Regions from separate parts of the Homo sapiens genome. Here all the other regions are linked to region 1. Evidence: fine-mapped expression QTL. A gene starts in region 1. Each other region holds a variant in brackets. All regions are shown on one strand. Distances are between the middles of the regions.

Region 1 (4,304 bases):
GTGAGTCTAGAAACAAAGAGTCAAGAATTAGAATAATTTTCAATGATGTTCTCCACCTTTTCAATATGATGTACCCTTGCATAGGACCCAATATTAAATTTTTCCTTTAACTCAGTTCTGCAACTATCTCACCTATGCATCTTGGCTAAAAACCAAGATATAAGTTAAAAGTTCTCTGAGCTGATAAAATAGATGGCACAAGGTTTATGCACTAGGTTTCCCACTATACCTATGAGTGCCTAGCACAATAGAACATTCTGTAGCTATTATAAATGCGCAAAGAAAAAAAATAAGTGAAATGGAAGCCAGGCAAGATACGTCAAGCAAATTATACTCAAACAGTATACACTATGATTTCATTTTTTGTTTTTTACAAATTTCATGTATTTTAAAACTTAACACTCTATTCCAAAATGTTAGCAATGGTTATCTTTAGATAGTAGGATTCTAGATGATTTTAATTTCCTTTCTTTTGCTTAGCTACTTTTTTTTAAATGGGCATTTTGTAAAATGAAAAATTAAGTTATATAAAAGTAAAAAGCCACGAGTTCCTCACTTATCTTTCTTTTAAACACAATTCTATTAAGTGTAGCTATCGAAATTCAAAACCCACAACAAATAAATCGCATTAAATTATAACTAGAAGAGGGTAAAGAATGTAGCCAATTGACAGTGATCCCAAAGTCAGAGTTGAAGACGGAAAAACGATTTAAAATCTACCGCAAGAACTCAAAAAGTTCAGTGGTCTCAAGTTCCTTCACAGTAACCTTCATAATACTGGCGGTAATTCATCCAAAAAAAGACCAAGTTAGATTTGGCGTTTCAAGAACAGAAAAGATCTGATGCATTTCCCAAAAAGCACTGCACTGCCTCACCCAAATGCTTCCAGCGTCTGTGCACAAAAGAGTAAATCTTTAGGTTTAAAAACCCTGCGACGTCCCCAGTGAGCAGGGGAGGGCTTCCTTCCTTATTGAAAAGATATCCTCTGAACCGATTCAGTCACAGGAAAGATTAGGATTCGTTTAGAAAATGAAATGCTAAAGGGCTCTGAGCTTTCGGGAGCAGATGTCTTAAAAATAAAAAAGTCAGCAGCATAAAACGCGTAATGAGTGTGGGGATTTATTTTTTTAAAGCATCCAAACAGCTGCATGACGATTTGGTCGGTCCCTGTTGTCTAAGGACACCCATTCTTAGATTGCACTACAATGACAAAGGCGTCCTCTAGGAGGAAATGCTGCAAATAATATCTCCTGCCCATGCGCGTCCACCTGATGGGAAAAGTAAAAACACCCTGGTCCAAGACCCCAGGTCCCATTCTCTCTATGATGGATGCTTCACCTCTAGTAGTGCAAACACACCCGGGTTGAGACTAAGTGGTCCGGGAGAAGCAGAGGAAGCCGTGCCCTGTGCGCTGACCGACCGCCGGGCAGGCGGGCACCGTTGGGGCCCAGGGCCAGGAGGGACGAGTCCTGCGGGAAGGAGGGAGGCGGCGGGGTACCTGGGACACCCGCGCGCGCCCAGACGGCCCGGGAGACAAAACTCAGCGCCGCTGCCGCTGCCGCTGCCGCCGCCGCCGGACGTGACATCAACTCCAGGTCGCCGGGCGGGCGCCGGGCGGGCGCATGCGCAGAGGGCGCGGGCAGGAAGCTCCACCCTCACTCCAGGAAGCTCTGGCTTCGTTTGTGAAACCCGACGGGATGAAGGGCTAGGCTCGCCTCCAGAGTAGTGTAGTTTCTCCCGCCGTGGGCACCCGGCCCCTTGCTACCCCGCAAAATCTCGCGACCATTTACTCTGGCCATCCGAAGGCGCGTGCCTGGGTTGCACTCCCGTGTCCGGCCCTCGAGGTTCTTGCCTAGGGAAGACCCGAGCCCTAGGGCCGTACTTAAGCTGCCTGCGTGCAGGACCCGGGTTTTGCTTTTGCTAATTTCCTCCCCACCCCAGGTATGTGGGAATAGATGAAGACCATCCGAATGAGAAGAAAAAAGGCAGGCAGAGGAGTGCAAGTCTGATTTAGAGCAGGCAGGCTCCCTGGGTTGGTTATTGTAGGTAACTGACTGGTTTTCTGGGCAGGTTGCTGCAGGTTGTGGATTGGAGGTCTATTTTTATATTAGATTTGGCCATTGTCTTAGTATATTCAGCCTCTCAGGTAAAACACTATAACATAGGAGAAAAATGAACGTGTTTTTTTTTTAAAAAAAGATGTGCTAAATGCAAGCTCCTAATTTGTTATTAGTAGGTCTAACAGAACAGAGTTACTCTTTAAAGTAGCTACTAACACTTACAAATGCTTTCTATTTCTGTGCTTGCCTCCCTGGTCCTCGGGCTGGCTGAGCAGCAGTGCCCAAGTAGGTTTTTAAACCGCCAGGGTTTGAGAGAAATCCCCAATGATGGGTATCGTCCCTTTGAAAGTTCAAATCTCTACCAAATAAGCCACACGGATGCCAAGCTTTGAAGGAAACTTAGGACTATCAACAGTGCAGAAGTCCAGTTATAGTGCAGACAAATGTGTGTATAATGGCTAGACAGAACTTAAAAATGAAGAAACGTGTGGTGGTTGAACTCAAACACTGATGCCCCTCCCCACTCCCTTACCACCACCATCTTTAGTTCCTCAGTACTGGGGTACTAAACCTTCCTTGGGTAGTGTTCACATGAGTAAGCAGAGTTCTTCAAGTTACCTTACACAAGTTCCATTTACTTCATCTAAACCTTGGGCCGGTCACTAACTTTTATAATTGCCTTTTCTTGTCTTTAAAATCATCACCAGGGCTGGGCACTTACTGTGTGCAGGCGCTGTTCTATGGACTCAGGATACATCAGCTACCGAAGCAAAGATCCCTAACCTTGTGAAACTGACATTCTGGTGGGAGGACAGATCCAATAAAAACTAAAATAAATAAGTCAATGATGTAGTGTGTTAAAAAGTGATCGGTGCTGGCTGGGCGCCGTGGCTCATGCCTATGATCCCAACACTTTGGGAAGCCGAGGCAGGCGGATCACCTGAGGTCAGGAGTTCGAGACCAGCCTGGCCAACATGGTGAAACCCTGTCTCTAGTAAAAATACAAAATTAGCTGGGTGTGATGGCACACACCTGTAATCCCAGCTACTCTGGAGGCTGAGGCAGGAGAATCGCTTGAACCCGGAAGGCAGAGGTTGCAGTGAGCTGAGATGGTGCCGCCGCACTCCAGCCTGGGCAACGAGAGAAATTCCATTTCAAAAAATATTAATAATAAAATAAAATCATCACCAATGGTGATTATATAGAAGGTGGGAAGGGTTAAATGAGAAAGTATGTAAAGTGCTTGGCATGGTGCCTGGCATGTGGCACAGTAGGGATATATGTGAATTGGCTGTGTCAAGATCAATTAAAAATGCAAAGATGAGTCTCTAAATCATTTTATTTGGGAAAACAGAATTGCAGTTCAGGGCATACACACAGACTGGGGTGGTCTTCAGAACAACAAAGAGATGGTTGGAGGTTTCATTAGAGAAATGTTATGTATTACCTTGAAAGATAGCTCATTGACCCTAAGCAAAGTTTTTAGGAACAGGCAAGCTCTAATTTGTGAGAGAAGGTGGTAAGTAAAACTAGTCTTAGAGTTACAGCAATTCGTTTCAGCAGCTACTGGGTGAAACTGGTCTTCAGGTTATAGCAGGTCACCTTGGCAGCTGGCTTTCAATATAATTCCTGGGCAGGCACTTTGTGCCCCAACTGCTTTCTCTTCTCCCTCATCTCTGGACTCTAATTTAGCTGGGTATGAAGATTACTCCAATTCATACAATCAATTTTCAAGACTGCTGTTCACTGAATGGTGACAGCAATATGGGTGCCTTCAACTGCCCTCCATTCTGTTTTTTGATGAGCTGATAACAGAATATGTGGAAGCTTCCCTAAGAGATAACACTTTGAGACTTTTGTCAACTCTGCAGCCAGAATGAATCTAAAAATATCCCTCTGCAAAAAATCCTTCAGTGGCTCCCCATTTCTCTCAAAGGAAAAACTGAAGTGCTCACAACAGCTTACAACACTTCTCATGGTCTACCTCCTTGTACCTCAGTCTCAGCTACTATGAGTGACTCCCCTGCCTTGGGACCTTCTCATGTTCCCTCTGCCTGAAACACATTATCCTCTGCTAGCCACATGGCCCACTCACTTACCTCAGTCTCAATCAAATGTCCCCTCCCTGAGGCTACTTTCCCCACCCTACCTAAAATTGCAACACTTTACCTGAATCCCAATCCCCTGTATGCAGTTCTACCTTTTCCTTCTTTCACAGCAATGATCCCATTTTTTTTTTTTTTT
Region 2 (5,231 bases), 110 kb before region 1:
CATAAACAATCAAGATAATAACAATACCCTTCTTAACTCTGCAAGTTTTTGTGGTGATTAAATGAGATGATGAACATTTACAACACGCTTTCATAGGGCACTAAAGGACCATCTGCGGTAGCCATGTGGTGGTTTTGAAAGATGCTCCTGCTCCTTCATCCTGAGCTGTGGAACCCGCTGGTATCTTTAAGACATTGTGTGGAAATATTCCGAAATGGTGCATCTATCTGTCCAACATCTTGTGAATATCATGGAATGCTGTTCAGTTTCTGCATGTTCATCCCTATTACATTTGTCAAGAAAATGACATTATTTGGTGCTACCTAGGTGATAGGGAGCAGAAATTCATCTGTTTTTCCCTTGGAAAATAATTTAAGGCCTTTGGTCTTTGTTTAAATTCATTATAGAATGTTAGTATAAGAGGAAACCATATAGATCTCATCAAGCTTAATGACGTCACCTTACAAAGCAGCCTAACTTTGGACAGTCTGAATTAAAGTGGGCTGACGGCCTGTGAGTATAGAATTGGAAACTGGAATATCATAAGCTCTCTCTGTTACCTCTTCTGTGCAGACACAGTCCTGGAATGAAGGCCACACGGTACCAATGTGCTCTTGCTTGCATAGATCTCTGTGCCTTAGCTCCTTGAGTTGTCTTCTTAGGAAAAAGACCTCTAGAGCACTATTTCCAAAAATCCTAATGCTCCTTTCACAAAGATAATTTCCCTACAACAGCAAGACTCTATCTAAGGGTCAGGGATCCTAATTTTAGCAAATTAAGTAATTGAAAATGTAATGTGGTGTATTCTGATTGTGTGTGACTTCAATTCAAATATTTGATCAACTTATCCATCAGTTCCAAACACATGTGCAATGTAGAGGTAGAGGCAGGAAGATCATCAGCCTCTGTCTTGGAGAGGCTCACAGTTAATTGGCGTGGGGGGTAAATGCTTAGCCTGTAATTATAACATAATGTGGCAGATGCTATAACAAAGCTGGGAACAGAGGCTATGGATGTGCAGAGAAGGGACTGATTTCCATTGGAAAAATCAGAAAAGGATGCTCAAATGAAATGAGATTTGAGTCATCCCTGAAAGATAGGCAGGATGCTCTCTCTAGGCCAAAATCTGAAGGGTGAGTTCTGGGGCGGAGCAACTGCAGGAGCAGAGGGAGGAGGCAGGGAAGTCCACAGGGTACTTGGGCAATGGCAAGTGGTCTGATATGGCTGGAACCCTAGGAAGATGGTAAGGAATAATAACAAATGAGATTGAAAGGAGTTGGAGGGTCAGATCGTGAGGCACCTCTTAATCCATGCTGTAGAGGGTGGAGTTGATCCAGTTTACAATGAGGCCTTTCCTGGCTCTTTTGATTAGGAGAATTACATGATCAGACCAGTTTGACAGCAGAATAGAGGGTGGACTGGGTGGGTGGGGAGGGGGAGGGTCTGGAAGAAGATTAAAGTTTGCAACCATTGGGGGACCACTACTTCTACATAGGCAGTGGTATAGTGACATCAGTAGATCAGGTCCTGTAGTCTGATGGCCTGAATTCAGTGTCTGCACCCCTCTGGTTGTGTGACCTTGGCCACGTGCCTTTGCATTTTCCCATCTAAAACGGGAAGATCACAATAGTACCTATCTCTTAGGATCCTTGTGAGGCTTAAGTGAATCAACACGTGGGACAGTGTGAGCATTTAGAAATGTTAACTTCCATCATCATCTGTAATAATCCAGTTAGAATGAACAAAGGTGGCCGGGCACGGTGGCTCACGCCTCTAATCCCAGCACTTTGGGAGGCCAAGGCAGGTGGATCACAAGGTTGGGAATTCAAGACCAGCCTGGCCAAGATGGTGAAACCCTGCCTCTACTAAAAATATAATAATTAGCCAGGTGTGGTGGTGGGCACCTGTAATCCCAGCCACCTGGGAGGCTGAGGCAGAGAATTGCTTGAATCCAGGAGGCGGAGGTTGCAGTGAGCCGAGATCACGCCACTGCACTCCAGCCTGGGTGACAGAGTGAGACTCCATCTCAAAAAAAAAAAAAGAATGAACAAAGACTCCATCTCGGAGGTTAGGATGAGATTCCTCATGTTTACCTGCGGTTTTAGAAGCTAGTTAGCCCTTAGGAAGAGGGAGGGTGAACACAACCCATGTGCAATGAAGTCCATTTGAATTTGAAGCCAACTAAATGCTTAATGCCAAAGAATGTTGATGTGAGTGATCTAGAATAGATTTTATTACACGAGTCAGCAGTTCCTGTTGATAGGTACTCTGGAAGATGTGACTCTCTCAGACCACTGAGTGTCATTCAGTAAATCACTGATCTGGGCAAAGAATGAGAAAACCTGTTTCACTCAAGCGTCAGCCTGGAGCTCTTGCATTCATGGGGTAACTAACAGCTCAGGAACTGAAGGCAGGAGTGCAAGTAACTGAGTAAGTAGAACCCCACGAGCATCAGCATCTTGTTGCAGCCCCCAGAATGCCAGCCTCACACCTGATAAGTCAGGAACTCACATGAGAGGATCTGGACAGTTCTTCATCATTCAGCGAATGCTGCAGATTCCTGATAATTAATACCTAAGTGGCTTTTGAAGAGACTCACATGGTACAGTGCTGAGAATGCAGCAAGCAGCAAAGCCAC[T/C]GTGGATGCTCTAGGCCAGTGGCTCCTAATCTGGGATGATTTTTGTCCCCCTGTCCCCCAGAGGACATTTGGCAATGTCTGAAGATTGTTTTGGCTGTCACAGTTGGAGGAAGTGCTGCTGGCATCTGGTGGGCAGAGGCCAGGGGTACTGCTAAGTGTACTACAATGCACAGGACAACCCTCAAAGCAATGAATTATCTGGCCCAAAATGTCAGTCATGCCTGTGTCGAAAAAGCCTGGTCTAGAGCAACATTTAACCAAACTGTGATATCTGCATCATTGGTGGTACAGAAAATGAGTTTAGGACAACCTTTTATTAGTTTTAATATTTTATTGAATATTGTATGTACTTATGCATATATCAATATTGAAAATATATGTATTACAAATATAAAAATATATCTTAACATGTTATAAACCTATATGATTTACATACAAAACCTGTTATTACAAAGATATCATTTGCTTAGGATGAGGTTACAATAGTGTTTAAATTTTTAAAAAATACCGTACTGACTTAAAAAATTACAAAGTAAATAATAGTGTAAATGGACTTCAAAGATGCCATACACAAAAAAGATTAAGGAGGTGGGAGTATAATCAAGGTTTAGAAAACACTGGTTCAGATCAGGGCACAGAAAATTTTTTCTTTAAGGAACCAGATAGATAGTAAATATTTTCAGCTCTATTGCAACTACTCCACTCTTCTATTTTGGTGCAAAAGCAGCCAAGGTGAATCGGTGAATAGATGGGTCTCCTGAACGCCCTGAGTATTAAACTCAGTGCCCCAGGAGTGGCCTGGTCATGGCAGGGTAGAATACTATTACCTACCCTAGTTAGTAGGACTTAAAATAGTTATAAATAATGATGCCCATTTTTTACACACGTTGTTGACAAGGTATGATATTTCCTCCATCTTGCCTGGGTACATTTAGTCAGGTGTGTGTTTTATCAAAGGACACATCTCATAAGTATCACAGTTCAACTTTTGCATGCAGAATTTGTAATACAGTAGGTTCAAATTTCAAGCCCTTCCTTTACCAACTGTGTCCTTGTGGGCCTATTCATTACCCTTTCAGAGCTTCAATTTCCTGCTTCATAAAATGGGGAGAACAGCACCTGTCCCATACGGTTGCTGGAAAGGTGAAATGCAACACTGTGTGTGAAAATTACACATTTAGTAAATGTTCTCTCTATTCACTCTCCCTTCTTTCCTTCTCTCCTTCAACTCTTTCAGTTATTCATTGAGGATGCCCTTTTTGTCATTGCCATTGATAAAGATGCTAACCAAGTCCAGAGCACCACATCCCTGCAGCACACCACTAGATGCCTCCCTGAAAATTAAAAAAAACCCCTTAGTTAATGCCTTTTGAACATGTTTTGCTGACTGCTTACAAATATATCTAAATGTCAGTCATTCCAGCCCATATTTATTTCATTCGGCTAAAGCAATAGACAATTACTGAGCATCTACTTTGTGTCAGGCACGATACTAGGCACTAAGCATAGTAATAGGAACCAGATACAAACAGAAGATGTGGCTTCTGCCCGACAAGGAGCCTACAGCCTTGGGTGGTGAAGAGAAGATAGTAAGCAAACAGATGATCATGGTTTTCACCCTTGAGGACTCTCTCCCATAAACACAGGCAAGGCACTGACTGAGACAAGTATTGAGAGAGAAATAGGAATGAATGAGGTGAAGATGGTTTGGGAACACATTCCAGGCCAAGAGCATTGAATGCATAGTTGCAGGTGATCAAGGGGTCAGTTGTTTGGAGACAGAAGTAAAGAAGTGGGAATGAGTCTGGGTTAATAATTTGGGCCAAATTATGTAGGGTGTGGCAGGCACGTGACATTATGTTTAAGCTACTGTTTGCAGGCTAATGGTTTTCACCTTCCTTTCGGAATGAGAGCCTGTATTTAGAGCAGATGTAGGTAATAACTATGTTATAAAAAAAACTCGTGCTACAGTGACTGATGTTCTGCTGGGTGTCTGTCAGCAGCAGGGCACAGGCCACGTGTCATAAGATGCTGCATTTGAGTTGATTTGGTTCTTTGCCTCAAATAGTACAGTTCATGATGCGTTAACTGAATTTTCATTTGCATCACTCCTAGAGCAGTAGTTTTGTAGACTTGAGAGGCATTCAAAGTTCTCATGGGTGAGGCTCTTAGATCCGAGTTTTAGAAAGCCGCTCCGACAGCTCTGGAGACTGGACTGAAACTGAGCCTGCTGTGAAACCACTTGGAAGGCCATGTCTGTCAATAACCAGTGAGGGTCTCATCTGAGGCCGTGTCAACAGGCGACTTCACATGCACCAGCCCTACAATTTGGCCAATGTCAAGAAGAGAGTAAGTGGCAAAACGTGGACTCAGATCTGTCTGGACTCCCCAAACTGAGGCCACATATTAACCTTCCCAGCCTCCTTTTCAGCTAACTTCTATACTCTCCTTTCTTTTCTTGCTCTCCTGTGGTTCTCCATAGTTACAAAAGGGGTGGATTTATCGGGGCATTTGTCTTCTTCTCAGGACTCTTCCTGATGCATAGTTGGCATTCAGTGGATATTTATTAATAGAATGTTTTACAATTCTTTTG
Region 3 (5,231 bases), 47 kb before region 1:
AACTATGCAACTTTATTAGGCTAAATTACGAAAGTACTGACAAATTTAAAGCAGATGTTTGAGAAGCACATAGCTTAAAGTCATAAAACTGGAATTTTAATATAGTCTTAACCCCAAAAATAGATGGTTTGGCAATGCACTGTAGCCTCGCATGCATCTCATTCCACATGAGTGTCCTCTTTAATAATAAACGCATTGTTAAGGCTATTCTTGGATGATGCTGAAAAGTTTAATTAATTGATGACATGCAAGATACAATACTCCCTTCTGTCTGACGAAGTCAAAGTGTTTTTAATCAGCCTCCTACAGTGACCATCTTGAGAGAAAGATACTCTCATATCTTAGCTACAGTTAAGAGGCCCATTAATATTAATTTTAAAAAGGTTTATTAGTGGATTTTTCTCTCCAGAAATATCACACAAAGGAAGAAATTCAGAGATCCTGAAATATCATACCAATTATTAAGGTGATGGTTTGTATTTCTCCACACTTTCCCTGCGAGCATCCCAAATACCTGGTGACAAGCCAAATGCCAACCCAATTAGCAAGAGCTGGACAAACAAGTGCCTGAATGGCCAGACGACTGGCTGGGGTCACCCTGGTGGAGACTAGAGCAAGAGCTAAGTGACTTCACCAGCCAGTCGCTGTCCCACCCGTCAAGGTTGGACCCTTTACATCCTTAAGCCCACCCACTCTTTGGATGCAGGGTGCAGTTTTTCCTGAGCTTGAGTAGTGAGAAGAGCAGGAGAGATGCATTAGCTTTTTCTCATCGTGTCCTTGAAATGACTGGGGCTCGAAAAAGACACTGTGATAAACTTTCATTTCTGATACAGAAAGGTCTAGACACTTAGAAAAAAAAAAAGTTGTTTAAATCAGATTTTCATCAAATTTTTCAGAATTGGTTGCTGGATCCCCAAAATTCACCCAGTTTTAAGGTTGCTTGCTAAAAGACGGTCACAGAGAAATACTTAGACATTTATTTAATTCCTATCTCTTAACAAAGTTGATATGATTTTGCGGAGAACTTGACTAACTGCATGATTTGGTAATGAGCGAGTAAAGAGTCTTCCTTTCCACACCCATCTCCCTAGGGTAGGTGACACTAGGGATGGGGACCCCAAATAGTTCATAGGTTTTGCGGGTCTCCACAATCAAATAATTGCCTCTCTGTTCCTGCTCACCTCTCCTTTCTTCTCCCAGGGAAATGGCCTTGGAATTTTAGCATTTGCCCTCCCCTGGGACTGGCTGGGGGGGTTAGAAATAAGGAGCTTGAGAGGGGATAACTGCTTCTAAGAGAGAGACTGGAGAACAGAGGGGCAACTTCCATATCTGCTTTTGCGGGCAGAGATGTGGCGCCTTCCGGCAGGTAGGGAACCTACATCATCACTTCCTGGCCCTGTGAAGGTTCTTCTCCTCTTGAGCATTTATCACACTGAGACCAGATGCCAGTGATGGGGGCTGCTTTACAGTGATCTGCCTTCAGCCCAATAACTTCTTCAATAAAATTCTATTTAACTGTAATGCACTAGTAAGAAAAATAAAAAATAAAGCGTAGTAACTGAGGCTGATAGCAACAGACCAGTCATTTTCTCTGACCAAACTGAGACTAATATAAAAATTACATGCTTTGTCTTTTTAAAAAAGACATGCCTGCGGCCAGGCGCAGTGGCTCACGCCTGTAATCCCAGCACTTTGGGAGGCCGAGGCGGGCCTGACTTTGGCTGCAAAGATTATTTTTGCAGCATTCAAGGAAGGACTTCAGGTTCCAGATGCCCCGAAGGCTACAGCCAGCACCAGGCCAAAGGTGCGTCTTCTGAGCCTTTCGTGGTCAGGGACATGAGCCCATGCACACAGAGGAGCGTCCTGGTGGCCGTTTGTTAGTGCTGGGGTCCGTGCACCAACTGTGACTCTGAGAGGCAGCAGCCAGCTGCATCCTCGCTCATTCCCTCTGAGCACTTGTGCTCTATGCTGTCTTGATTTGGAAAGACGGTGTCCAAGGCCCCGCGATGTTCAGGCATAAGAAACAGCCCCTGACCTGCAGCATTTATGCTTAGTCTTCGGTTCACTCCAGACTCTGCCATAGATAGGACATTAGTAAAATCCAGGTCAGTTTCCAGGAAGAGAAATTTGAAAGTCAGGGCTTAACAACTTTTCTCACATCATGGGTGCACTCAGAAAATAACCCTTTGGGCCGGGCTCGGTGGCTCATATCTGTAATCCCAGCACTTTGGGAGGCTGAGAACGGCGGATCATTTGAGATCAGGAGTTCGAGAGCAGTCTGGGCAATATGGCGAAACCCTATCTCTATTAAAAATACAAAAATTAGCCGGACAAGGTGGCGCATACCTGTAATCCCAGCTACTCGGGAGGCTGAGGCAGGAGAGTTACTTGCACCCAAGAGGCGGAGGTTGCAGTGAGCCGAGATCATTGCACCATTGAACTCCAGCCTGGGCAACAGAGTGAGACTCCGTCTAAAAAAAGAAAAATGAAGAAAAGAAAATAACACT[TTGTC/T]TGGCCCCTTGAGGTAAACCCAGCAAGTCCTGAGGAACACAGACAGGATTCTGAGTAGGAGTCTGTTTATCTGGAGTAAATATGGCAAATGTTGCATGTCTTTATGTATTTTAATTATAGCACAAAATCTCCCTGCACTCACATTGTGGAGAACATGTTTTGGAGTCAGGATGACTGCTGTTTTTGTTTACGGTGACCACAGCCATAACAGCCTGGGAAGCCTGTGGGTTCCCGCGACAGGCCCACACTGGTGCCAGAATGTTGTCGTGCCTAAGAAAGCCAAGGGAGGCCTACATGCAGTCTAGGCAGGGGGGCCGGCACCAGAGGCGGCTGAGCCCCTGATCCCCAGAGCTTCCTGCCTTTGGCTGAGAGGGAGCTGTAGGCCTGCCTTGGCCCTGTCCGGGGTGTGCCACCACTCTATTTGATACCTGCCAGCCATCCTCTAATTGTGCTCTGCCAGCGTGGGAGCAAGTTGGAACATTCTCGCACTAGCCACGGGTGTCTGGAAGCTGCCTGTTGCAGAGTCGAAACTGCCAGGGTGGTTTGGACTCCATTGTGTTTGTTTTACGGGCCTGAGTTGCAAGATTCTATGAGATAGTGTCTTCTAGTAATAGAATTACACAGAGTCTAGGGCTCAAAGGGAAAACTGCTTTTAAATAGCATTGATTGAACATCATTTGACAGCATCTTAAAGAGAGCAACTGTGTTGCTCCAGGAGAAATAAACCTGGTGACAGGAAGAGATAATAGAAATGTCAGCCTTATGTTGCTAAAGTAGAGGAAGGGTCTTCATGGCTAATATCGGGAGATGGCAAAATACATACGAATCTTCCTTTTACTTGCTTCATCCCTCATTCCTGCAGTCCTTCATCATGCACCATCCAAAGGGCTGGTCCTGAGTCTCCCTTGGCATAAATGTGGCCTTTTTCTGTACTTACTCAACTCCGCATTTGTTGACTGACCTTCCCCTTGAACTTCTTGCAGAGGGCCGTCAGCAATGTTTGGGCTGACCTCTTCAGCCAGCAGATTCCCATCCCTGCATACCCCAGAGTTTGCATACCATTTGCACATACGCTTTTTTGCATCTAAAACCCACACAAAATGCACTGCAAAACCCCCTTGCAGAAAGCACTCGATGTGACACAGATGTGGATTCACAAATCCAAAATAAGACAGAATCATTGTAGAATGTCCCTGTCACCTGGTGGGAGTAGGACAGATAAGAAGAAATCCACAACAGGCGCCCACAGCCAAACAGAAAGACAAGCTTCTAGTAATGACTGGGACTCAGCAATGTTATGAAGATAGAGACTGTTTACTATCGATTTGTATAGGTGTAAAAACAGTACTGTGAATATGCTTTGAAGTCCTAATCTTTATATATTCTATACTGAAATATACACAGATAAAATGATATGATGCCTGTGATTTGTTTCAAAGCAATCTACATGTGGATGTAGTCAAGAGTTGATTATTGTTGAAGCTGGTGATAATACACCAAATTCATTACATTAGTCTCCTTCCTTGTTTTGAAAATTTACATAATAAAAGATTTTTTTTAAGTTTAAAAAAAAAAAGAGCTTGGCCTAGAGGGTATGTAAGGGATAACAAAGCTCTCTCTTAGGACCTAGAAACGTCCCACTCCCAAGAGTCAGGAGACTTGGGTCCCCCCACCCTGGCCCTCCCCCTGCCCCTGCCCCTCACTCACTATGCGATGCATCCATCGCCTCACTGAACCTTATTTTCCACACCTGCAAGTTCACAGACAGGACCAAGTGCCATGGTCAACCCTTCTGGCTGACTGGGTCCATCTCTCTCCCTCCCTGCAGCTCAGTCAAAGGCCCACGGTGGAAGAGCTTCGGGAAAGAAAGATCCTCATCCGCTTCAGTGACTACGTGGAGGTGGCTGACGCTCAGGACTATGACCGCAGGGCAGATAAGCCGTGGACCCGCCTCACCGCTGCAGACAAAGTAAGCAGAGGGGAGTGCTGGAGAGTGGGAGGCAGGACCGTCTGCTGGGTCTCGCTGGGCTCACCGCTGGGGAGCGTGTAGGGAGACCTGCAGCCAGGCCTCAGCCGCAGTCCCCATAATGGAGTGTTGAGACCCCAACACCTTTCCCCAGGGGCCACAGATAATCTGCGGAAAGGCTGCTGAATCGGAGAAAACACAAGGCACATAATACTGTGCCCATTTTACAGGAGGAGGAGCAGCAGCCTGGGAGGCTGTGCCCAGAGAAAGAGAATAGCACTGGATAGGTGTAGACAGGTGAAGGCAAGAGGCTCCAGGCTCATCACAGCCCTTCCGTATAGGGGATGGTGCTGCCGGCATCCAACGAGGGATTCACCAAACCAAAAGAGAAGACAAAGTAGACGCATAACCCCAGGAGGGAAATAGGGCATAAATCAAAGAGACGTCGCAAAACATATCTCACTGCACTAGCCCCTCGCCGATTTAGAAAACAAAAAGAATAATCTGAGGTTCAGTTTGTTTTTTAGGAAAAGCAGTGATGCCAATGAGAAATCATTTTCTCTGTCCACCAGACAAGGTATCAGAATGAACCTCTGTTTGGTAATCCTCTCTGATTCTAGTCTGGTCACCATGAGGAGCTGGAGGGTTAAGGGCCTTTTTAAAAATGTAGTCTGTGCGCCAGGCACAGTGGCTCACGCCTGTAATCCCAGCACTTTGGGAGGCCGAGGCGGGTAGATCACTTGAGGTCAGGAGT
Region 4 (5,231 bases), 40 kb before region 1:
AGTTCATGAATTGAGTAGACACTTAACAAGGTTAGTATTAAGGGTTTTTTTTTTCCTTTTTTTCCCTCAAGTTGCAATATTTATCTCCAAATAAAGCTCTCCCACTTGTGGGACATGAGTGGGTTGGAGGGTGCCATGAGAGGGAAGATAGTAGGAAGGCAGGCATGCGGTTCCACTTTAGGTTACTGAAACGAGGAAGTGGAACACAGATGGCCCGGGCTAAAACCAACTTTCTGCAAAGTCTGAGTTTCACTCATTTAAACTAAAGGTCTGATAAGCACCAGACTACCAACGACCCCAAGGTGGGTTTTTGTGAAAACTTAGGTCAAGGAGAAAAGATTGTTGCCAATTTGCAACCAGTCAGCAGAGGCCAAACCTGAACAAAATACCACATCCACACGGGACTTCCAAAGTGGACCACTTCTGTTATTCCCTGACATTCTCCCTGACAGTCCAGCATCATGATGATATTTGGGAAAACCGAGGCATGGAGTGATTAAGAGGATTATATAAGGTTGCATTGCTAGTTAGCAACAGAGCCATTGATTTAATTCTGACTTTCTTTTGGGGGGAACATTTAGAGAAATAGGATATAGCAAGTATTTAGTCTAGAGACTCAGAGACACAGATTGGGTTCTGCACCTTGCTGCTGGATCCAGGCTGATGGCAGGAGGTGGAGGCCACCAGGGCTGCCCCAGATGAAACTTTCAAAGCCAGGTGTGTGTTCAGTGGTACTCCTGTGGGGATGACGGTGGGAAGCTCGCACCTCCCTCTCACGGTCAAGAACCTCCCTGAAGATGGGAGATTGGACTGTTGAATCCTGCACCTTTGGCAGCCCCTTGGTCTTGATGTAATTGTTTGTTTCCTTAGGTTTCACCGACCTTAACAGTCGAATTCCTCTTGAGTGCTATGCTGTCTTCAAAACATAAATTTATAAGAACCATAAGTGCTGGTATTTATTCACTTCCCCATTACGATGTAAATCTTCTGAACTGCCTTTTTTTTAAAAAGAAGAAAAATCAAGGAAACACAATCAGGATTTTATGTGTGAAAACGCAAAAGTGATGGCTCGGCGGTCCGAGCTGCTGGTCCCACTTCTGACACCAAAATGCATCCCAACCCCCGGCAGTGCCAAGGGCACCAGCAGGGCCCTGACTGAAGACTGTCTGGCAGGTGGAACGGTCCTTGTCCTCTCCAGCCAGGCCCAGCAGGCACTACCTTCATGAAGTCTCCAGCAAACCTCTTCCTCACAAGTGTCTGTCATCTGAGTCCAAAGAAAGCTGAAGGGGTGGGTTTGTTTTGGGGGTACTGTGCAAAGCTAATGATCTGGTTGGACTTCTACACTTGGCCAAATGTACTGGCTCCAGACATGACATTTGGTTTGGGGGCCCTTTGAAGTTGATGCCAAGAAGGAGTGAACACTTCTCAGTTGCCCCTGGCTTTTCCCTCCTTTCAGCCACCACCCACACAATGAACAAAAGGGAAGGGCCCATTTCTGGGGGAGTCTGGCTGCCTCTTGGCTACGAAGGCTGGCACTGAGCACCCATCCTGCTCCCTCTGCCTGAGCTGAGCTGCCTTTCAGGAAGCTCTGGTTTAGAAGGGGAAAGATGTCATATGCTCAGTTCAAATAATCAACCCAACTGTGTCCAGAGTGTCCAGTGTCATGAGTGACCCACGCACACACACAGCCATTGCTAAGGTACTCCTGTGCTGTTTATAAGTCTGAGTGGGAGGACCCTATTGAATCCTGTGGGGTCAGAAACTGCTTGGCTGACATTTATTTTCTCTGTGCGCCTTGAAGCTGATTATATGGCTTGGGAGTTCTTAGCTTCTGTGTATAGGACCAGTGCATGCAGGCCAGAAACCACTCCTGTAGGACTGGCTTTCCAGCCACTGAGGGACTTGGAACCACTCCATGGCCTTCTCTTTTTTTTTTTTTTTTTTTTTTTTTTTTTTTTTTTTGCACTGAAGAGTTTCTGTGAAGGAGCCCCAGAGTTGGGCATGTGCCAGAATCAGGCCAACACCAGCCACACCTGTCCACAGTGCCCCTTCCTGCTCCAGTTGATCCAGAGAGCTCCTCCCTCTACCCTCATGATGCCAGGGAGCGTGACTGTGGGTGTGTCTCTGACTGGGACACCCAGGATAGGGTGTGC[G/A]ATGAGGCCAGGACCCTCCTAAACCCTAACAGCATCCTAACGAGGCCCATTGCAGCTTTCGATTTCCTTCATAACAGAGCTCGCAGGCCCTCAGTTGCAGAGCTCTCTCACCTTCTGGAGTGACTCCATCGTTACTCCAGTCTTTCTAGGTGGTGGAACTCTCCACCACACATGCCATTTAGAAAGACGCCAGCTTGGCCTTTCCAAAAAGTTAACCAGTCGTCTCCCCACCACAAACCCTGTGGGAGCAGGTTACTCTTAGGATGCACACCCGTCAACGAGGCCATTGCATTTTTTTGCAGGCATGAACGGCTCCCATCTAGGCACTAACCCAGGAGCCAAACAACTGCTGGGGAGAGTTCAGGGCAGCTCTTTGGGCGGTGCCTCCAGCTGCAGCTTTGCCTTGCCACCTGGAGCCAGCACGCCTCTGCCCGACCCAAGGAGGATGCCATCACTAGATCCTATTTTTTTTTTTTTTTTTTAACTCTTGAATCTGAATAGTTCCTGCCGTGGGGAGAGGTATTGTTCAGGGAAAATGTGATCGGGATTTTAGTGTGGCTGTAAACACAGTCTTCCCGAAAGGCTTACTGACGTTTGAATGTGCAAATGGTATGACGAAAGATGTAGGGCTCTTTCGTTGAACTTCTCTACGGCGGGCGGGCGGACACGTGTTCCAGGTGGACTTGCCTGCCGGCCAGGCTTTGAGTCTGAACTTCCTCTAACTGCAGCTGGGCTCCTGGCACACGCGGTGCCCTGGCATGATGGTCCTCCCTGGCCAGGAGCGAGTCCTAAGGAAATTCATTCCATTGACCGGACTCCTCCCATGATAGGCCCATGGCTTCTCTGCTGGCCTTAGTTCTTGGCCCTTCAGATTCCCTGGGGATATAAGGCCCAAGCGGATCTCCCTGCAGCCAGCCAGCAGACAGCCCAGGGTTTCCGCCCAAAGTGCCCTCATGTTGCAGTCCACTTTGTGCATGGAAGATATTGAACACAATTTCCACTGCTCTTCCTGCAGGGCCTCCTTTCCAGCAGTCACTTGCTCAGACTGAGGGGTGCACCTCCCCTGCCATTGACAGGTCCTGCGCCTTCAGGATGGGCTATTTCAAGCCCGTTTTAAGTGGCTCTTACACAGGCTCAGCAACCTCTGTGGCCTGCAGGATGGGCCTTCTGCTGTCTCTTTCCTTTCTTAAAACCTTAAGGTCTTTCTAGAGACCTATTCAATTTTCTTTTTTTTTTTTTTTCACTACAATGTCATGACAACTGCAGCAATTTGTGTTACTTTCCAAGATGACAATTTGACATTAATTAAGGGAAAAAATAAAAAGGTGAGCTAGATGACTTAAAATGCATCTCTTTTTTGAAAAAGCTGTAGCTGGCAAGTCAAAGTTTATTTTATGTGTGTAAATTCCCAGTTGAGCATTTTTTTCATTTGGATTAGCGTGAGAGGAAAAATGTGAAATGTCTCAAATCAAATGCTTCCTTCTAAAGATTAGACATTGCCCAACCCTGCCCCCGCCCCCAATCAATCAGTGACAGAAGAGACCGCCATCAGCCAACTAGCTTTTTTTAAATGGCTGATATATTCATCTCTAAAGGCCCTCAAAGCACTGTAAAACTTTTAAAACTTTAGCCTTTATGTCAGATTAGAGAAACCAAACAATGTGACGGTACATGTGATGAAAAGCTCTGGGTTTATTTTTCTCCCGCTTATGAACATGTATTTTTATTTGCCGAATGAAAATCGTGGTGTGTTGCTTTGATGAATGGAATTTCAGGCTCTCCCTGTGCACAGCCGGTGGGCAAAGGTCACCTTAAATGACTTTTTCTCCCTATCTGTCTGTTAATCCCCAGACCGGTTGCATTTTCCAGTTGCTTCCTGGGTGTCTGTACATAGTTTGTCTTTGTATAGGAGTGAGTGTGGTGACCGTCAATCCCCTAATCTCCCAGGTTCTAATTTAACAGATGATGGCTGTATGAGGAAAACGATGTAAATAGAGAATACAAATTAAACTGGATCTCTGTGGCCTAGGTTTTGTACATACAGAAACTGCATGGTATTTAAATTATTGTTTGTCTCTGATGATGTATGCAGTTTCTTTAAAAACAAACCAAAAAAAAGTAAAAAAAAAAAAAAAAAAATTCTTGACTCTTGTGTGTTTTGTTATCAACCAGCAGCAGAAACCACCAAAAATGCTTTGACTGGGAAAGGGAGGTTGCAGGAATGGGAGAGGTCAGCTCATCTGCAAAATACATAGTGAGAGTGAGTGGACATACGGGACAACCGCATGTCTCCTCTGGTATTATTGGGGGAAGGAAGTATTGTAGCACATACATTAACTTTCTAGAAGACTTTTGTGTACTAGGATTTTTTTCCTCAACTTTTTTTTTTTTTTGAGACTGAGTCTTGCTCCGTCGCCAGGCTGGAGTGCAGTGGCGCAATCCTGGCTCACTGCAACCTCCGCCTCCTGGGTTCAAGAGATTCTCCTGCCTCAGCCTCCCAAGTAGCTGGTATTACAGGCACGCGCCACCATGCCTGGCTAATTTTTGTATTTTTAGTAGAGATGGGGTTTCACCATGTTTGTCAGGATGGTCTTGGTCTTGACCTCATTATCCGCCCACCTCAGCCTCCCAAAGTGCTGGGATCACAGGCGTGAGCCACTGCGTCCGGCCTTCCTCAACATTTTTATAAGAATATCTAAAATGTCAACTGTCCTTTTAACGATCTGGGAAGGCTGGAGATCTTGGCTCACTGCAACCTCCGCCTCCCTGGTTCAAGTGATTCTACTGCCTCAGCCTCCCGGGTAGCTGTGACTAGAGGTGTGCACCACCACACCTGGCTATTTTTTTTTTTTTTTTTTTTGCATTTTATTTTTAGTAGAAACAGGGTTTCACCATGTTGGCCAGGCTGGTCTCAAACTCCTGGCCTCAGGCGATCCACCCTCCTCGGCCTCCCAAAATGCTGAGATTACAGGTGTGAGCCACCGTGCCTGGCCTCTATCTCCGTTCTTGAGAAGCCTGAGTATTTGATGTATAAAGCAAAGAACTGCATTGCATAACCTTCTGGTTACTACTTGTCTT
Region 5 (5,231 bases), 60 kb before region 1:
ACTACCCCCATGATCCAATCATGTCCCACCAGGCTCCACCTCCAACACTGGGGACTACAATTCAACATGTGATTGGCAGGGACACAGATCCAAATCACACCCACGGCATCTGGCCCCTGCCCTCCTTCCCACCAATCTTCTCTCCTTACTCTCTGCCCAGAAGGAGCATCCTTCTTCCATCCCTGAGCTCTGGGCACAGTGTCACTTCCTCCTGGAAGCCTTTCCTGACCTCCTGATTTGGTCAGATCCAGAGATCCCTGCACCAAGTGCCTCACCATGGAAGCCCTTACTCCAGCTACATTTTGCACTCATTTCTGTGACTGTTTGATTAATGGCTACCCCCATCCTCTTCCAGTCTTCTCTGTTCCAGAAGGGCAGGGACTGGTTTTGCTCATCACTGTACTCTGGTACCTAATGTAGAACCTGACACAGCACTGGCACTAATAAGTAACTTGCTAAATGAATGAATGGGTTTACATTTGAATGTAACTGAGTCTGTGGCACCCATTTCTAAAACAGGTCTTGATAGGAATGAGATAGAGCAAGAGTGATAACATAATTCTAGGAACTCGAGAGGGGAGGACTCCAGGGAATAGAGTCAATGCAGAACCACAGACACTTTATCTTCTTCACAGTTTTGCCTTGTGCCCAGTGAGCCCCACTTCCATGTGGCTGCTGAATGGTTTTTTTCTGACTCACCTCTTGCTGGCCAACTGAGATGCTGCAAGAATGTACAGTGCCTTCTACATGGGCAGTGAAAGTCTAAGTCACGCCCAACTTGCTTGTTGTTTTGAGGATATTTTATTACATGCCAGTCCTTGGAAACTGTTGATCCAGTTTTACCTTGCACATTGTAATCACAGATGTGCACCTCTAGGCTGTGAGCCGCTTAAGAATGTGTCTGGCCCTTCATGTGGCCCGTGGTTCATGTTGGGTAGATTAGCAGATGAAAGACTTAGGAAAACAAAAATTGGAATTCTTATCATTTGATCTCAGCCAGCGTCTCAAACTCAGAGGCCCTCGGGGGTCCAGGAATGATCTGAAAAAAAAAAAAAAAAAAAAAAAAAAAAAAAAAAGCAGGACAGATGTGAGCGTGCTCACCTGTATTACATAAGTGAGGCCTGGGGAGAGGGCTAATTTGATCACACACTCTGTCTAAAGGCATTCAGGCTCAAAAAAAGTATAACCAGCTGGGCTCAGTGGCTCACACCTGTAATCTCAGCACTCTGGGAGGCCGAGGTGGGTGGATCACCTGAGGTCAGGAGTTTGAGACTAGCCTGGCCAACGTGGTGAAACCGCATGTCTACTAAAAATACAAAAATTAGCTGGGCGTGGTGGCACACACCTGTAATCCCAGCTACTCGGGAAGCTGAGGCAGGAGAATCGCTTGAACCTGGGAGGTGGAGGTTGCAGTGAGCTGAGATTGTGCCACTGCACTCCAGCGTGGGTGACAGGGCAAGACTCTGTCTCAAAAAAGAGAAAAAAGTGTAACCTCTGAGCATGCCAAAGAGAACTGATAGAGTCAAATCCAGTGCACCAGGCATCAGTTTGCAACCTCTGACTAGTAAAGTATCATAGTTATGGCAGACAAAATATTGGCCACCCTTCCACAAGATGTCCACATCCTCATCCCCAGATCTATGAATATGTAACGTCCCAGGGCAAAGGAGACTTTGCAACTGGAATTCAGTTAAAAATCTTAAGATAAAGATTAAATGAACTAACATATGTACAGTGCTTGGAACCATACCCTTACATTATAGGCATTAAATCAGCCTTAGCTTATTAAACTAGTATTTATGATTTGCAGAGAAAAGAGCATAGGCCTAGCAGGATCTGATACCTTGTCTGAGGTAAATAGGTTCAGAGCAGAGCCTGGACTAGAACCCAAACCTCCTAGCTCCTGAGCTACTTAGTGCTTTGTCCTTACAATGCCACCATATCATTTTCCTCCCAAATCTCATTTTCAAGGTCAAAACAACTAACTATAGCACAGGCCCTTCTGGCGGGCTCAGCTGCATGTTATAGCTATGATTAGTCTTGATGTTCTCAGTCGCTTTCCAGAGAAATGAAACACAAACAGAGGAACTCATTTGAAATTATGAGTGTTTGACTATAAAGCAGCCTAGTTAATAACAGAATTTTCTCTGATCAGAGTCTAGTCACTCAGTTTTGCCCCCTCCAAATATGACCACCCATAAAAAAAAGGGGAGGCCACCACAGAGCCAGTTGTCATGTTCACTAATGAGATCAATGGGATGGCACCGTCAAAGCTGATGAGGGAACAATGTAG[T/C]CTGCAGACACTTCGCATAAGACTCCAAAACACTGGCCTGATCTCCAAATGTAGGCGCCACCCACATTTACAAGGCTTTCTCAAAACATTCTGCCCCCAAAACTTAGCTTGACTTAAAGCCTGGGTATTACCAAACCATTCCATAAAAGTGGCTGCGCATCTCTTATAAAAGCAGCAAGTATTTTTAGGGAAAATAAACTGGCAGGTGAGAAAGAGCTGTTAAGATCTTTCAACGTGGAGTTGGTAAGCTGCATTCCAGACCTCTGACACCGGCTCACTCAGTTGCATAATCATCGCTTTCCTCCTGCAGCGTGAGAATGCTATTTTAGAAAGAATTCAAAGACTACTGCATCCAAATTTAGACCCCCTAATATTGTGAATTTCCAAATACACAGCTGGCCCTTGTCAATGGGGATGAAAAATGTCTTAATGGGATTGCAAAGAGAAAAAACAAACTTTGACTGGGAGCAGTGGCTCATGCCTGTAATCCCAGCACTTTGGGAGGCTGAAGCAGGTGGATCACCTAAGGTCAGGAGTTCAAGACCAGCCTGGCCAACATGGTGAAACCCTGTCTCTACTGAAAATACAAAAAACTAGCACGGGGCATGGTGGCACGCACCTGTAATCCCAGCTACTCAGGAGGCTGAGGCAGGAGAATCGCTTGAACCCGAGAGGCAGAGGTTGCAGTGAGCTGAGATCGCACCACTGCACTCCAGCCTGGGCAAAAAAAGCTAAACTCTGTCTCAAAAAAAGAAAAAAACAAACTTTTTTTCACTCTACTCTCACACTTAACACACTTCTGTGACCCCACACATTTCTGTGTGAGGCAGCTCCCCACACACCAAGCAATTCTCCAGCAGACATGAACTGGACATCCTGTAATTCAATTTGATTCTGACCCTTTCTACTGGGACAGTGTCAGATCACACAGGTTAAGGACTCAGTCCCACAGAACTGCCCCCACTTCAGATGCCAATACCAAGTCATAGGTTGTCACCTATATTATGACCCACTAGCTGTAAACTGGGGTTCTCACAACTCCCTCTTTGTGTTCAAATAATTTGCTAAGACAGCTCACAGAACTCAGGGAAACACTTACTTTACCAGTTTCTTACAGAGGTTACAGATGAACAGCCAGATGAAGAGATGGACAGGGCAAGGTATTGGGGGAGAGAGGCAGAGCTTCTGTGCACTCTCTGGGTGCCACCCTCCCAACAGTGCCCCCCAGCCCCATGGTCAGCAACCTGGAAGCTCATCTAATCTTGTGGTTTAAGAGTTTCCATAGAACTTCACCTCCAGCCCCCCACCCTCCTGCTTCCCAGCTGAAAGCTCCAGGCCTCTAACTATGTGTTCTTTCTGGTGGCCAGCCCCATCCTAAGTCACCTAATTAGCACAAACTCTGGTGTAATCCAAAGGGACTCATTCCAAGTAACAAAATACACTCCTGACACCCCAGAAATTCCAGGGGTTTTAGGTGCTCTGTGATAGGAACTGGGTCAAAGATAAATATGTTTTATATTATACCACAGGGATATTTTGAAAAGGAATAATAAATATGAAAATGTTCTTATACTCTTAAAAACACTTTGGAATGCAATTTCCAACAGTTTCAGGGTGCTATAGGCTTTATAAGCAGGTATATGACCAAAAATCCTTTCTCTGACATTGTATTAGGCCATTCTTGCATTACTATAAAGGAATACCTGAGACTGTGTAATTTATAAATAAAAGAGGTTTAATTGGCTCATGGTTCTGCAGGCTATACAGGCAGCATGGCCCTGGCATTTGCTTGACTTCTAGGGAGGCCTCAGGAAACTTCCAATCATGGAGGAAGGTGAAGGAGAAGAAGGCACATCACATGGCAAAAGCAGGAGCAAGAGAGAGAGAGAGAGTGAGCAGGGAGTTGCCACATGCTTTTTTTTTTTCTTTTTTTTTTTTTGAGACAGTCTCACTTTGTCACCCAGGCTGGAGTGCAGTGGCGCAATGTCGGCTCACTGCAACCTCCACCTCCCAGGTTCAAGCGATTCTCCTGCCTCAGCCTCCCAAGTAGCTAGGATTACAGGCATGTGCCACCATGCCCGGCTAATTTTTGTATTTTTAATAGAGACGGGGTTTCGCCACAAAGTTTTAAATGACCAGATCTTGCAAGAACTCACTGTCAAGAAGCTAGGACCAAGCCATGAGGGCTCCCCATCCAAGCACCTTGCACCAGGCCTCCCCCCGAGCAATGGGGATTACCATTCAACATGAGATTTGGGCAGCGACAAATATCCAAACTATATGAGACATTGAAGCCCATTCCCTATATAGGATGTGTGGTGGTGACACGGGAATGTCACAGAAGCAATTGATTCTGGCCCAGCACAATAAACAAAAACACAAATGACAACAAGCTTTGAATTAAAAATATAGTCCTTTCTGGGAGATTGATTCCAGGACTCCCTTGGATACCAAAATCCAAGGAAGCTCAAGTCCCTTGTATAAAATGGCGTAGTATTTGCAAAAAACTATGTGTATCCTCCCATATCCTTTAAATCATCTCTAAATTACTTATATCTAATACAAGATAAATGCTATATCAATAATTTTAGACTATTGTTTTTTGTTTGTTTTTTTTTTTAATATTTTCCGTCAGCAGTTGGTAGAACCGAAGAATGTGGAACTCATGGACACAGAGGACCAACTGTAGTTAGGTTTGGAGACTTCATTGACTTGATATTTTCACTCTAGGATCTCTCTTTAGATTTCAAGATGTGAACATCTTGCCGACTATAGACACCAGTTTCTAATACCCAAGGAGGGACTGCAACTTCCTCAACTAGGAGAGCATCATTTCTACCCCTTAGATCCCAATAGAGGAGTCTGAGAAGCCTAAAATTTCTTCTACAATGATTCAGTTTCTCACACACCTCATCCCAATGGGTGAAGTGGAATGCCG
Region 6 (5,231 bases), 78 kb before region 1:
TAAAGTGAGCTCATTCATTCAAAACAAAACAATGAAAAACATTGTATCACGTCAGCTGCAGGCTACCTAATTAGTTAAAATGTATCATAAATGTGTATCACATATTAAGTGATCTCTATGCATTAATTTGTTGATAATATAGCATCGAGGTATTTATAAAATTCTATGGAACATGTTTTGAACTTGAAAACTCGTCATTTCTATAAAATCTTTCAAACTGCCTGTTTGGCAAATAAACTTGATATAGGGGGAAATTCTGGTCTCTTGTGTGTGATCACGGTTATCCTCATGTTGAGGTGATCGCAAAGCCCCAAAGTGAGAGACCCTGTTAGAGGAGATAAATCATCATTGTAAGGCCAATTAGTAGACGGGGCAATAACTCATATTGGGAGAAGCATGCCTTTAGCTGCCGTAAGTGGAGGAACTCACAGCTGCAGCCACATCCCTGCAGCTCTGATCTGACTGCAGAGCTACCAAAAATCTAATCTGCATGTGTGGGCTAAAGCACAAGCAAGGGACAGAAGACTGGAAGCCACAGCGGAGAGAAAGTTGGCATAAAAAGCACTCTGCAAACATCAAAATCGCGTGCCAACTAAGCAAAGCCAATGCATAAGCTATAATGTCTTCTAGATATTTTATTGAGAGTGATAAGGATGATGAAGAACGAGAGGAGGAGAAGTTAGGTCTTCCGTCCTCCCTTGCCAGCCACAGTTCCTAACTGTACCATTTTTAAAGGTTTGATTAACTGTTCGTGGCTTATCAGCATTATTCTTTGCAGCCTTTTGGCCATGCTCGTGTAGGGGTGCCCAAACCCCCAGGCTGTGGACTGGTATCAGTCTGTGGCCTGTTAGGAAACAGGCCCCACAGCAGGAGATGAGTGGCGGGAGTGAGCATTACTGCCTGAGCCCTGCCTCCTGCCAGATCAGTGGCGGCATTAGATTCTCAGAACTGTGCATGTGAGGGATCTCGGTTTCACGTTCCTTATGAGACTCTAACTTACGCCTGATGATCTGAGGTGGAATCACCCCAACCCCTGAAACCACCTTGCCCCCAAACCCCCATCCATAGAAAAATTGTCTTCCATGAAACCAGTCCCTGGTGCCAAAAAGGTTGGGGACAGCTGGTCTAGTGTGTTAAAGGCCCCAGAAGATTACATTTTTCTGGTCAGGGGTATGAACTACACTAAAATGTGTGGTGATTAAGCCGGGCGTGGTGGCTCATGCCTGTAATCCCAGCACTTTGGGAGGCCAAGGCAGGTGGATCACCTAAGGTCAGGAGTTCAAGACCAGCCTGGCTAACATGGTGAAACCTCATGTCTACTAAAACTACAAAAATTAGCCGGATGTGGTGGCAGGCGCCTGTAATCCCAGCTACTCAGGAGGCTGAGGCAGGAGAATCACTTGAACCTGGGAGGCGGAGGTTGCAGTGAGCCAAGATTGCACCACTGCACTCCAGCCTGGGCAACAGAGAAAACTCCGTCTCAAAAAAAAAAAAAAAAAAAAAGTATGGTGACTAAAGAATCACCTATTTCATTTTTCATTGGGAAACCAAAATAATTTCCGTCTTGTAAGTTATGACCATTTATGTGGTTCTGCTCCACTGGCTGATGCTTCAAGGAAATAGTTTTCAGACATTGGTGACACTCCATGGTAGGGGCCCACCAGTTGTGGCCCACAGACTGAACCCACCCCACTCTCTGTCTTTGTCAATAAAGCTTTATTGGAACACAGTTACACTCATTCATTTACCTGCTCTCTGTGGCTGCTTACACACCATAATGGCAGAGTTGAGTAGCTGCAACAGAAACTGTATGGCCCACAAACCCAAAGTATTTACTATCTGGCCCTTTGAAGAAAAAAGAAATGAGACATTTAAGGACCTAGACTGAGGACATTAGAGAATGTGGCCTTCCTCTCACAGTGCTGATCCTAGATCTATTTAGAAAGTGCATGTGCCCGAAATATCTCCATTAGAGAAAGAAACTAAATTCATCCTCACACACATAGGGATTTCCTTTGTGCTCATTACTCTAATCATCAAAATAATCCCATTTACCTTTACTTCTTAGTCCAGATCCGCCTGTGAAGCATCATATAGCATACAGATTATGCTGGGAATACGGTCCAGTTTTTCAAACTTGATTTATTACCTGAGCAGTTAGAAAAGCTACTTCAAGGACAACCAGGTATCATTGAAAGCAGCTCAGCTCAGCTGCCGGCCAGATAAGAAGGGGCTGGCTGTGCAGACAGACTGAGAGAAGGAATCTGTGTAAGCAGAAAATGTATGTTGTCCTTAAGAAAGGAAGGCCACAGCCATGCCATGCAGGCTTAGCTTGAAAATAAATATCAGCAGGTGTGAGAAGTATGTTCCTGTTTTTGCAGCTGAAGCTAGATTCCAAGTCCTGCAGGAAAAGGTGGGGGCTGGAAGGAGGGTCGCCAACGAGTAAGAGCCAGATACTAAAACATGACTCCTTGGGCGCAAGACAGGTCTGGGCGCAAGACAGGTCTATCCTCAAGACAGGTGGTGCACAAATGGAGTGTTACACAGATAGGAAGAGATGTGGCAAGAGCTCTGGCAAATTGCAAAACCGTGGAATATGCTTGGGATGTGTGTAACACTGTGGTGAAGAGAGGCTGACAAATCCTCTACATGACACTTATTGTATGAAGAAAACATATCCATTTTACACACACACACACACACAATCAATCTTCTGATCAGTGAAAGGAGCTACTGACAGTGGTCCCTGTGCATCGTCCACATGCCTCTCCCATGAGTGGCAGCCACCTGAGAAGGGCAGCTTTCAGGGCCCC[G/A]AGTGGCTGTGTGTCCCTGTCTGCTGTGGGTAGGATTCTGCCTGCCAGGCACACTCAGCCTCCCAGTGACCTCTTGTTAGAGACACATCGGGTGGGATGCTGGCCATAGGCGGGCGCTCTCCTAGAAGGGGGAGATGGCTCCTGTGACTGAGGGGAACGTTACACAATCAGTCGTTCCCTCAGGATGGAGGCAGGTGTTTATCTTCACTGCAGGAGTTGGTTTGTCTGGTGCTCCCTGAGAGGGACATTACGGTCACGGGTGCAGGGCTGCAAATAGGATCTGTCCAGGTTCTCACCGGCCTCCAGCTGGGGCATTTCAGCATCAAGAAACTGCCTGCCCATGTGCTGGGGGCGCTGTGGTCTCTGATGTCTGTCTGGCCTCATATAGGGGAGGGTGGGGATGTATTCATGGTGCATGTGTGTGTTGAGTGTATTTGATGTGACCGGAATGTGAGAAAATAAAACAAAAAACCATAAGGAAGGGAAGAGAACACGGACTAATGTGTGCCAGGCTGAGCTCTGACAGTCCTATGGCAGATACCAGCTCTAAATTCAGCCTCTCTTTGAGTCTCCTATTTGAAAGCAGTTATCTGCGCTCTCAAGGGCTCTCTCTCAAGCCATTGAGTAGATTAGCTGAAGAATTAGTGAAAAATCATTTAAATTTATATATATAATAAGGGGATTGAGAGGCTGAGGCAGGAGGATTGCTTGAGGCCAGGAGTTCAAGACCAGCCTGAGCAACATAGCAAGATCCCCATCTCTACAAAAATTTAAAAATTAGCTGGGCATGGTGGCACACACCTATAGTCCCAGCTACTGGGGAGGCTGAAGTGGGAGGATCACTTGAGCTCAGCAGTTTGAGGCTACAGTGAGCTGTGATTGCACCACTGTACTCCAGCCTGAACAACAGAACAAGATCCTGCCTTAAAAAAAAAAAAAAGAAAGAAAGAAAGAAAAGGCCAGGAGGCACGGTGACTTATGCCCATAATCCCAGCACTTTGGGAGGCTGAGGTGGGCAGATCGCCTGAGCCCAGGGCAGATCGCTTAGACCAGCCTGAGCAACATGGCAAACCCCTGCCTTTACAAAAAAAAAAAAATAGAAAAAAAAAATTAGCCAGGTGCCTGGGAGTCAGAGGTTGCAGTGAATCAAGATCGTGCCACTGCAGTCCAGCCTGAGCAACGGAGCAAGATCCTGTCTCAAAAAAAAAAAAAAAAGAAAAAGGAAAGAAAGAAAAGAAAAAAGTCTAAAAAAGAAAAGGATAAAGTCTATTTGAAACTTCCATTTGACTCTCCATTTTCCATTCTTTTCCTTCTTTCCGTTTCCCATATAAATAGATCCTTTCCTGGATAAATAACTCATTCCATTATTTCCATTATTAAAATTCCATCTATCCTGATCTCATTATAATTAACCAATTTTCAAAGAATGCAAAAATACAAATCTACACTGGTTAGACATTCTTAAAATCTGCCATGCTGCTGTTATTAAAAAAAAAAAAAGTTTTGGGGGAGAGGAGAGGGGTCTCTTTGTTGTTGTGTCACATCTGCAGAAAAATGTATTTTGTGAAAGAGTATCGGCCGCAGGAAAACACTTAGAGATTAATGAGAGTATCTATATTCATACCATTCCTTTGGGCTACAAGGCTATTGGCTTAAAAATGAAGCTTTATGTTTAAATTTATGGACCATGGGTCAGGAAAGGTAGGGAAAATGAGACTTTTATTAAAGGAGAATTATAGAAAACTTAGCAAAATATTGCAGCCAAAACCCCCCTCCACTTGAGCATCTGAGATTCCTTGGGGTTTTTGTGTTTTCGTTTCCAGGTTTCTAAATAGCATGAGATCTCATCTGAACTTGAGTTGTTATTGTTTCCAGAAACAAGTTCAGAAGAGACTTTGGGAGACAGCTGGAAGGAAAATAGCTGTGGCCCCACTGAATGAGGAGGGAAAGGATCGGGATTCCTGCCACCCGTCTCCTGGCTTCTTCCCCACCCTCTATCCTCAGCCCTCTCCTTGGGAAGTATGATCGCCCCAAAATGAGAGATTGGCCCTTTGCGGGTGACATTTAAAACACATGAGCTGCACATGTTCTGTAGCTCCTAGGAGGAATCCACGTGTTGCAGTCAGAGAAAGACATGGAAGGAGGCACCTTGTTGCCTATTTTTAACGTTTCATCCCTTGCTTACCTTTGAAAAATGATTGGTGGGTGCATGTGTTGTTTATTGAGGCCCAACTAAGCACAGGCATTGGAGAAATCTAGAACCATGGTACTTTGTGAATAAATGAATGAATGATGACATTTTTCTGTTGTCTGGGCTGTGCATATCAACCTAACCACAATATTGCCTGTGACAGTCCCTCTCTATAGCAAACACCAGAACTTCCTCTCTTTATTTGATCACTCTTTGTCCTTGCCCCA

The links. PIP is the estimated chance that this variant, and not a neighbour inherited with it, causes the effect.
Region 2: its variant is the best candidate, but not a certain one, in a credible set for the expression of TBC1D7 in whole blood (INTERVAL, PIP 0.74).
Region 3: its variant is the best candidate, but not a certain one, in a credible set for the expression of TBC1D7 in nasal epithelium (TOPMed, PIP 0.51).
Region 4: its variant is the best candidate, but not a certain one, in a credible set for the expression of TBC1D7 in hippocampus (GTEx, PIP 0.62).
Region 5: its variant is the best candidate, but not a certain one, in a credible set for the expression of TBC1D7 in cerebellar hemisphere (GTEx, PIP 0.60).
Region 6: its variant is the best candidate, but not a certain one, in a credible set for the expression of TBC1D7 in whole blood (TOPMed, PIP 0.57).

The regions. Positions count from the first base shown.
Region 1 is chr6:13,326,958-13,331,261 of GRCh38, forward strand. TBC1D7 (TBC1 domain family member 7) reads right to left here and starts at 1,580. Exons shown (of 8, transcript NM_016495.6): 1 at 1,339-1,580. TBC1D7-LOC100130357 (TBC1D7-LOC100130357 readthrough) reads right to left here and starts at 1,580. Exons shown (of 9, transcript NM_001318809.2): 1 at 1,499-1,580. LOC124901261 (a long non-coding RNA gene) reads left to right here and starts at 1,658. Exons shown (of 2, transcript XR_007059457.1): 1 at 1,658-1,941; 2 at 2,768-2,900. RefSeq lists a silencer at 1,396-1,785 and an enhancer at 1,419-1,925.
Region 2 is chr6:13,220,007-13,225,237 of GRCh38, forward strand. The region is part of intron 8 of PHACTR1 (phosphatase and actin regulator 1); the gene reads left to right. LOC105374933 (a long non-coding RNA gene) reads right to left here. Exons shown (of 4, transcript XR_007059456.1): 4 at 2,955-3,972. Among named protein-coding and RNA genes, the nearest start is that of TBC1D7, 110 kb to the right of the region's middle. The variant T/C (reference allele first, on the strand shown) is at 2,639.
Region 3 is chr6:13,279,083-13,284,313 of GRCh38, forward strand. It overlaps PHACTR1 (phosphatase and actin regulator 1), which reads left to right. Exons shown (of 15, transcript NM_030948.6): 13 at 4,340-4,480. All of the region lies in intron 8 of TBC1D7-LOC100130357 (TBC1D7-LOC100130357 readthrough), which reads right to left. It overlaps LOC100130357 (a long non-coding RNA gene), which reads right to left. Exons shown (of 5, transcript NR_160971.1): 4 at 2,347-2,471; 5 at 75-2,074. Among named protein-coding and RNA genes, the nearest start is that of TBC1D7, 47 kb to the right of the region's middle. The variant TTGTC/T (reference allele first, on the strand shown) is at 2,508.
Region 4 is chr6:13,286,193-13,291,423 of GRCh38, forward strand. It overlaps PHACTR1 (phosphatase and actin regulator 1), which reads left to right. Exons shown (of 15, transcript NM_030948.6): 14 at 1-30; 15 at 871-1,645. The coding sequence ends at 886. The region is part of intron 8 of TBC1D7-LOC100130357 (TBC1D7-LOC100130357 readthrough); the gene reads right to left. All of the region lies in intron 3 of LOC100130357 (a long non-coding RNA gene), which reads right to left. Among named protein-coding and RNA genes, the nearest start is that of TBC1D7, 40 kb to the right of the region's middle. The variant G/A (reference allele first, on the strand shown) is at 2,154.
Region 5 is chr6:13,266,797-13,272,027 of GRCh38, forward strand. All of the region lies in intron 10 of PHACTR1 (phosphatase and actin regulator 1), which reads left to right. TBC1D7-LOC100130357 (TBC1D7-LOC100130357 readthrough) reads right to left here. Exons shown (of 9, transcript NM_001318809.2): 9 at 1-1,039. Among named protein-coding and RNA genes, the nearest start is that of TBC1D7, 59 kb to the right of the region's middle. The variant T/C (reference allele first, on the strand shown) is at 2,294.
Region 6 is chr6:13,248,316-13,253,546 of GRCh38, forward strand. All of the region lies in intron 10 of PHACTR1 (phosphatase and actin regulator 1), which reads left to right. Among named protein-coding and RNA genes, the nearest start is that of TBC1D7, 78 kb to the right of the region's middle. RefSeq lists an enhancer at 1-56. The variant G/A (reference allele first, on the strand shown) is at 2,814.